Homo sapiens: one gene and its partner. The protein of the gene in region 2 interacts with the protein of the main gene of each other region in a biochemical or structural test. Each region holds a gene or a part of one and is shown on either strand. Other genes may lie near its edges.

Region 1 (3,745 bases), on a different chromosome or scaffold from region 2:
GGGGTGAAAAAGCTGGAGTTAATGAAGACCAGCTGCTAGTCTGGGTTCTGCCTACAGCTAGCTGGAGGCCAGCCTTTGGTGGTGGTTGATGGGGGGGTGGGGTGACCTCCATCCATGGGCACAAGGATATCCTGTGGCAGCTAGGCTTGTGCTTCTCTCTGAGCTTAGTTTTATCCTTAGTTTATAAGAGAGTATCTGTTTCCTTCCCCTACTCCTCTCCTCCCCAAATAACACTCAGCTCTTATTGAACTTTATAACTGTAGTGGTGGCCCAGCTGAGATCTGAGGATCTCCAAACCCTTTTGTAAACACTCATTAACTGCCTGGGAAGAACGAAGAGCCCTGTTTAACAGCTGGGAGAGAACTGAGGCACATTAGGGTGAAAGGTTTGACCTAAACTCACCCCATGGACTCCACCCTGGGGCCTTCCATCCTTAGTCCAGCTCCTTTACTCAGTTCTTCCTGCAAGACAGAGGTGGAGGCATTGCTGGTGTCTTCTCCCCTTCTAGGGAGAGGCCATGCCCTCTCCCCTCAAGTCTGTCGCTGACTTCCTCTGGCCCTTCCCCTCATGACGTTTTCCCTGCTCTGCTGCTAGAGATATGTGCAACTCTCCTTGCAAAATGTTCTCAATCCACAACTTCAGAATTCTTATCCAGCTTTCTCTTGCCCATCTAGCCCACCAAACCTGAATTCTCCCTTTTGAGCTACTGAGAAGACTGGCTATACTAAACTGAATCAGTGACCTTGAAGTTGATCTGTTGTATTGAGGTCCCTCTGCCCCTATATTTATCCTAAATGGTATCTAGGAAAATATTCTCTCTTTAACTTGTTTATTCTGGTCATAAAGATTCGGGACATTACTGAGGGCTGGGTAGGGGCACTAGTTGACCTCTAGGTTCTACGTCCTGTTCTTCCACTGACAATTACCATTTCCAGTAATAGGTGTAACCCAAAGTTCTTTTTTGTTTTTTTCTCCTTCCCTAACCCCACCTGTTTATACTCTTGCCTATATATGTGTATTTGCAGACCCCACACATTCCCAGATACACATACATTGGTCCTACATGTTTCCCCTGTTTCCAGCTGCCATCTAAGTGAGCCTGCACTTTTTACATGCTGAAAATCTTTTTTCACCCTCTATGGCCTCCTAGGTCCTTGGGAATAATTGGGAGGGATGAAGGGACTCCTGCAGTCCATGAGGAAGAGGACAGAAGTGAGCGCCCAACCAAAATGAATGCTCCCTTTCCAAAATCTCTAGCTGAATGCCTTAGCAGGAGTGGCAGGGAAAGAGATCTTAACCCCACCTCCAGCACCAAAACCTAAATCCATCTGCTCAGGGCAGGCAGGAAGAAATGTCTATTTTCTCCTGTTTCAGGTCATCCTATCCTCGAGTTATCCATATGCTGTGTATTTGAGACAGGGAACTGTTCCTGTCCCCAGCCGATGACCAGACGCCCATCTTTCTTCCAGTGGGTTACTTCTCCCCCATCAGTCCTTCGCTCTGCGCCCGCTGACCCAGTCGGGGCTGGCTGGTGGAAGAGGGCGGGGAGAGCCTTCTAGTTGGCGAGTGGGCTTTAGGACCCAACGGGAACCCGTGCCTCTTGCAGCAGCCTAACCCAGAAGCAGGGGGGAATCCTGAATCGAGCTGAGAGGGCTTCCCCGGTTCTCCTGGGAACCCCATCGGCCCCCTGCCAGCACACACCTGAGCAGGTAGGACCATGCACACCCCTTCCCAATTCTTTGGCCGCCTTTGACCCCGGCCTCTGCTTCTGATCTAGCCATTTCCTTCTCGCCAGTTCTGGCTTTCCCCATCCCTCCTCTCCCGTCGCTCACTGTAGTCCTGGGAGGTGGGAGCCTGGGAACAGTGGGGTGTCTGAAAGCTCAGAGCCCTCTGCACCCTCCAGCACCCTTCCTGCATTTCTCCTGAGGCAGTTCCCGTTCTCTAGATAAGAGTGGGGAGTAGGGGGAAGGTCTGCCCAGGCCCCACGCCCTTGCACCCTCCTTTGCGGTATTGCCTAATACCCCTTCCCCCACCTCACCTAGACTGGAGAATTGGCAAGTGCTGAGGTAACAGAGAGAGGAGAGAGCCAGAGAGGGACCTGAGCTTTCCCAAGGGATTTCTTTCTTGCTTCCTCACCCAAAGAGCTCAGGACTTTGCCCCTACTCCCTACACACCTTGTAGGGGAACTAATGTCCCCTTCCAGGTTCATCTCACACTTGGGTGGCTAAAGGCTTTGCTAGAGGGTAGTGGAGGTTGTGAGCATTTTGGTGAGCTTTTCCTCTAGGAAAGTTCTTTCAGCTTAGAGCCCCCATCCATGTCAACATTTCAACACCTGCTGCAGAAGCCCCCCGACCCCACCTGTGTGTGTGTGTGTGTAGGGACAATGTGGTTGTAAGATCTAGAAGCTTTGGATAGAGGTGGCTGCATGCATTGAAGGGGAGGGATACCAGAGTGTGGCCCAGGCCAGAACAGGCTCAGTCCAGATGGCTAGGGAAGGGGGTGTGGACCAGATTGAGGAGGTCACCCAGCCTTGCCAGCTCCCTGAGCTTCTTGGCTTTCAGAATCTCAGGCTCCTGGTGTTTCTCTAGAGCTACAAGGTCCCCAAGCTTCTGCCCCGCTACAGGCTCTCTGGGAGAGGGCTAGATGGCACCTACTGTTTACAGTGGCTTATTTTTCTCTCCTGTGGTGGGCAGACAGGCCCTGCTCTCTGAAGATCTAGGGCGTGTCATTCTGGTTTGGTGGGTTTACAGGAAGGGTGTACACCTTGTCTGACTTACCATGTGTGAGTGTGTGTCTTGCTTCTGGGGGTAGTAGACTGGGGAGGGGGGTGATAGAAGAGACTGGTCACACTGAGGGAACTCCTCTAGCAATCAATGTATGATAGGAATGGGTGGCATGTCCCCATCTGGTAGCTCTGTCTAGGTGTGGGGTGTGCTCTGCATTCTTCCATGGCTCCCCGGGTCCCCTAAAGGTTGGTTTTAGAGGACAGGGTGGATAATGAATTGGCTTCAGACTTCGTTCTGGTCTTGATCCAACAAGGAAAGTAGAGATTCTGACTGTGAGCAGTGAACTAGGAATCAGAGGCCTGAACTGGAGACTTAGACTGGTTACTTAACTATATGTGTTTATATAGGTCTTCCCCTTTGCTAAGCCTTAGTTTCTCCATTTGTAAAAATGGCTATCAGTAGCAAGCAGGGACATTGCCACTAAAACCACAGAGACAATGTATCGTAAAGCTCACTGCAAACGGTAGTAATGGCTGGGGGAATCTAGGATGGAATCCTCTTCCTAAATCTAGGTCAATCTCTCCGCCTTTAGTTTTCTTCCCCCATCCTTTGCCCATCTGGGGGATGGAGGAACTAGGCAGGGCTATTGCCCCGGTTACTGCAGAATTCCCCTAATGCAGGTTGTAGCTGTTACCAGAGCACCTGTGGTCACAGAGTACAGATCTCTCCACCAGGCATTTCTTCCTCTGGGGCCCCATACTTGCTCCCCTGAGCCATGTCTCCACCTTCCTTCTGCCATCCCTGCTTGGCGTCCTTGTCTCTCTCTCCCCTGCCCAGTGGCCTCCTTGTCTGGCTCACTGGGCAGGAGCCCTAATCGGATTCGACAGCTGAGATATGTGTGGCGGCTAAGAGCAGGCAGGAGGGAAGCCAGTGGGAGGATGGTATGAGGACTGCCCCTGGCACTGCCCCGGCCTCCCAAGCACCACCTTGGGCCTGCTGATTTCTTACTTGGCTTGGCC
Region 2 (3,745 bases):
ATTGCACTCCAGCCTGGGCGACAAGAGTGAAACTTCGTCTCAAAAAAAAAAAAAGAAAAAGAAAGAAAGAAAAAGAAATGCTTACCCTTAAATATGAGTTTCTGAAAAGACTGTGGAACCCCTATGACCTCTTCAACAACCTGGGCCAGGTCTTGGACAACTGGTTCACTGCTGCCCTGCTGGGAGGTAACATGAAGGTCGTGCTTCTCATTGCCTGGGGAGAAAGAAAAGCATTTGACGAATATGATTCTTTCACATACACCAATATAGGATGACACTTTATCACATTTATTTACCCAGCCTTCAAGGCCCAGCTCATATGCCACCTACTCCACAGAGCCTGCCCCCATGCCACCCAGCTTTCCTCTGGTGACCTCCTCAAGTATCTCTGTTTCCTCTATTATAATAACTAACAATATGAATGATATCTGCTAACATTTTAAGCATTTCATGCATAATCTAATTTAATCCTCAGATAAACCCCACGAAGTAGATCTACCTATTACTTCTTATTTCACAGATGAGCAAACTGTGACTTCAGGCAAGTTAAGGACTGCCTATGGAGACTCAACTGTTGGAATCAGAAGTTGATATCAGATCTAGCTGATTCCCAAGCCCACCTTTTTCATCACAAGCCATCTGCTTCCTGTGGCTTGACTGCCCTGTACCCTGTATTGTATTGGTCTCGTCTCGCTTGCTGTAATGGGCAAGTGACTGTTTTCCTCCAAGTCTCTCCCACTGAACACACTTGAGTGCATCCATGATTTGTGCTAAGTAAACAGACAAATGCATACGAACAGCAGAGCCTTTCTTTCTGAAGAAGAGACGCCAATTCTTTTCCAGGGATGCGGACAGCAAGGAGGGAGCCTGTGTACAGTACATTACACCAAGGTTTGGTTCCCCCAACAGCTCCGTGAGGTCAGCAGGAGCCAGGGTTACCAAATCTACTTCACAGAGGAGAAACCGGATTCTTAGAAGAAGCCGTCCATCCCAAGGTCACTCAAAACCGCAGGATCTAGAATCCAGGTCTCCAGATTCCCAGACCCTTGGGCCTCCCCTAGCTGGTTCTAGAGAAACCTCATGGACTCAGCTCTCCGGTGTACTGACTTCATTTGGTGGTGTGTCAACTCCAACAGTAGGCAGACCCAAAGGGTGCCCAGAGTACAACGCTTGGACCCACGGCCAACTCAAGCGGCGCACACGGAGAAGGCACTCAGCACACGAGGAGCACCCCGGCATGCACGAAGTTCTGACTTATCACACACGGAGCAGTCGTAGACCACATGGCCCAATATATGCCTGACACAAAGGGCACAATAACTGCGCGGGCACACAAACACAACCAGGCCCACGACGTAAAGCACGGAGAAGCTCAAACACCCAGGATCGCACAAATGACCAGAGACAAAATACACCGGCCACATGGAAAAGTGTACAGACACAAGCCCGGGACAAAAGACAGTTCCACGGACACAACCAATAACCCACGCTTCCGGACGCCAGGACAAGCGCAAGGTCACACGCTTCTGGAGGACACGTGACTAAACCCACAGACCCCGCCGGGCTTTCGGGACCTGCATGGAGCCCACCTGGCGCCCGACACTCACTGTGGGTGACAGTCACGGTGAGCCCAGCTGCCGCCATTTCCTCCCTGGTCACCTCCTCGCTCCGGGTCGACTCCTCGTCCCGGGTCACCTCCTGGCTCCGATTCATCTCTTCGCCCTGGGTCGCCTCCTCACTCTGGGTCGCCTCTTCACTCCAGGTCGCTTCCTCACTCAGGGTCAACTCCTCGCTCCGGGTCAACTCCTCGCTCCGGGTCGAGCGGCGCCGGGTTTTCTTCTTCATCCGCGGCCTGCGAGCGCCGGCGGCGGCGCCCCTGGTGGGTCGGTCATGCCCGCTGGCAGTACTCCGGGCAGGTGGACGCCCAGAGGGAGGCGGACCACGCTGGGCCGGGGGCTCCGACTGGCGCGGCTCCCGGCCTGGCCGAAGGGCGCGCAGCCGGGAACCCAGCCGCTCCCGGTCGCCTCGCGGTCTCCGCGCCCCCCCGCGCTGAGCCAGGCCCGCACTTGTTGACCGCCCAGCGATGGAAGCTGAGCGCGGCGTCTCACAACCCCGCCCGACTACTTCCCAGCCCCGCCCCGGCCTGCCGGCCCCGCCCTCGCCCTATGCCGCGTTAGTTGCCTCCAGGCCCCACCCACTCAACTGAGGCCCCGCCTTGCTACAGTAAAACCCCTCCCACTCCTTCTACCAACACCCCGCCCCCTGCAGGCTCTCTCCGAGAGCACCAAGTCCTTTTGCTCTCCATCCCCGGAAGACCCGGCTGAAAATCCGGAAAAAGAATCGGGAAACGCCAGGAGGCATATTGCGCTTGCGCACGGAGGGGCCGGAAGTCGAGGCGGGAGTGACTCTGCTTCCGTTTCTGGTTTTGCTCTAGTGTTTGGGTTTCTTCGCGGCTGCTCAAGATGAACCGACTCTTCGGGAAAGCGAAACCCAAGGCTCCGCCGCCCAGCCTGACTGACTGCATTGGCACGGTGGGCATTTGATCATGCATAAGTAGGCTCAGGACCTCTGACACACCCGACCCCGCCCACCCCCAGCCCCGGGCCCATATTCTTCCACTTCATTTCGGGTCCTGGGCCCCTTACACGTCGTCCCTCTCTATCTCACCTTCTCCCCTTCATCCCTGTTACCCAAGTCATTCCTAACGCCACAAACCAGGGAACCCCTAACCCCATCACTGCCTTGCCCTGCCAGCACCCAACCCGTTTTGATGCCCATTGCCCGTCCACTCGCTCTCGCCTTGATCCTCTCACCTCACCCAGCCCTAGGCCCATACACCCTTCCCACCTCATCCTGCCTGATCCCTTACCCTTCTTCCATCTGTCATCCCCAGTCCACATCAGGACTCAGCTTGATATCCTAGGTCAACATATCTGTGCCTTCGTCCTGGATCTCAGTAACACAAAACTCAGAACCCTAGCCCCTCAGATTAAGCCACCATCCCCGATTTAGGGAATGGCATTAGATCTACAATCAGCTGGTTTCACTTGGCACTGGCCCATTTCATGTGCCTCTTGGAGGAACTCTCAGCCTGGCTAGTCTCTGATTCTAGGGAAATTCCAACTCAACTCAGTGATTCTCAAATTATTTTCTGCCCCAACCCACTTGAAGGCTACCTGGTATATCAGAATCGGGGCAGTGTGGCGGGGGGTAAGAGAATAATTTATAAAGCCCAGGGTTTCTGGTTGGGAATACCCTTCTTTGTGAACCACTGTTTTTCACCCTTCCCCTTAAGCTCCTCTTTTCTTCCTCTGTATTCCTTCCTCTCTACCTGCCCCTTCTGGAATAAGTGTATTGCAGTAACTACCAGTGCATTTGATATTTTCCCCTAAGGTGGACAGTAGAGCAGAATCCATTGACAAGAAGATTTCTCGATTGGATGCTGAGCTAGTGAAGTATAAGGATCAGATCAAGAAGATGAGAGAGGGTCCTGCAAAGGTAAGGTGGGCAGCAACTGCTGCACAAGGTGCTGGCAGAGCCTAGTTTTAGCACCTATAGAAATAGGGCCTAGTTCGGCTGGGCGCAGTGGCTCATGCATGTAATCCCAGCACTTTGGGAGGCTGAGGCGGGTGGATCACGAGGTCAGGCATTTGAGACTAGCCTGGCCAACATAGCGAAACCCTGTCTCTACTGAAAATACAAAAACTTAGCTGGGCATGGTGGCAGGCGCCTGTAATCCCAGCTA

What was found. The genes of interacting proteins can lie anywhere in the genome.
Region 1: the proteins of BAG1 (region 2) and RARA form a complex in vitro, tested with the Homo sapiens proteins (one study listed by BioGRID).

The regions. Positions count from the first base shown.
Region 1 is NC_000017.11:40,307,578-40,311,322, forward strand, and holds the start of RARA (retinoic acid receptor alpha), read left to right. Parts: upstream 1-1,602; 5' UTR 1,603-1,709; intron 1,710-3,745. UniProt on the Homo sapiens protein: Receptor for retinoic acid. Retinoic acid receptors bind as heterodimers to their target response elements in response to their ligands, all-trans or 9-cis retinoic acid, and regulate gene expression in various biological processes.
Region 2 is NC_000009.12:33,262,617-33,266,361, forward strand, and holds the start of BAG1 (BAG family molecular chaperone regulator 1), read right to left. Parts: upstream 2,093-3,745; 5' UTR 2,059-2,092; coding exon 1,608-2,058; intron 215-1,607; coding exon 86-214; intron 1-85. Other genes in the region: CHMP5 (charged multivesicular body protein 5), read left to right, coding at 2,463-2,531, 3,394-3,498. UniProt on the Homo sapiens protein: Co-chaperone for HSP70 and HSC70 chaperone proteins. Acts as a nucleotide-exchange factor (NEF) promoting the release of ADP from the HSP70 and HSC70 proteins thereby triggering client/substrate protein release.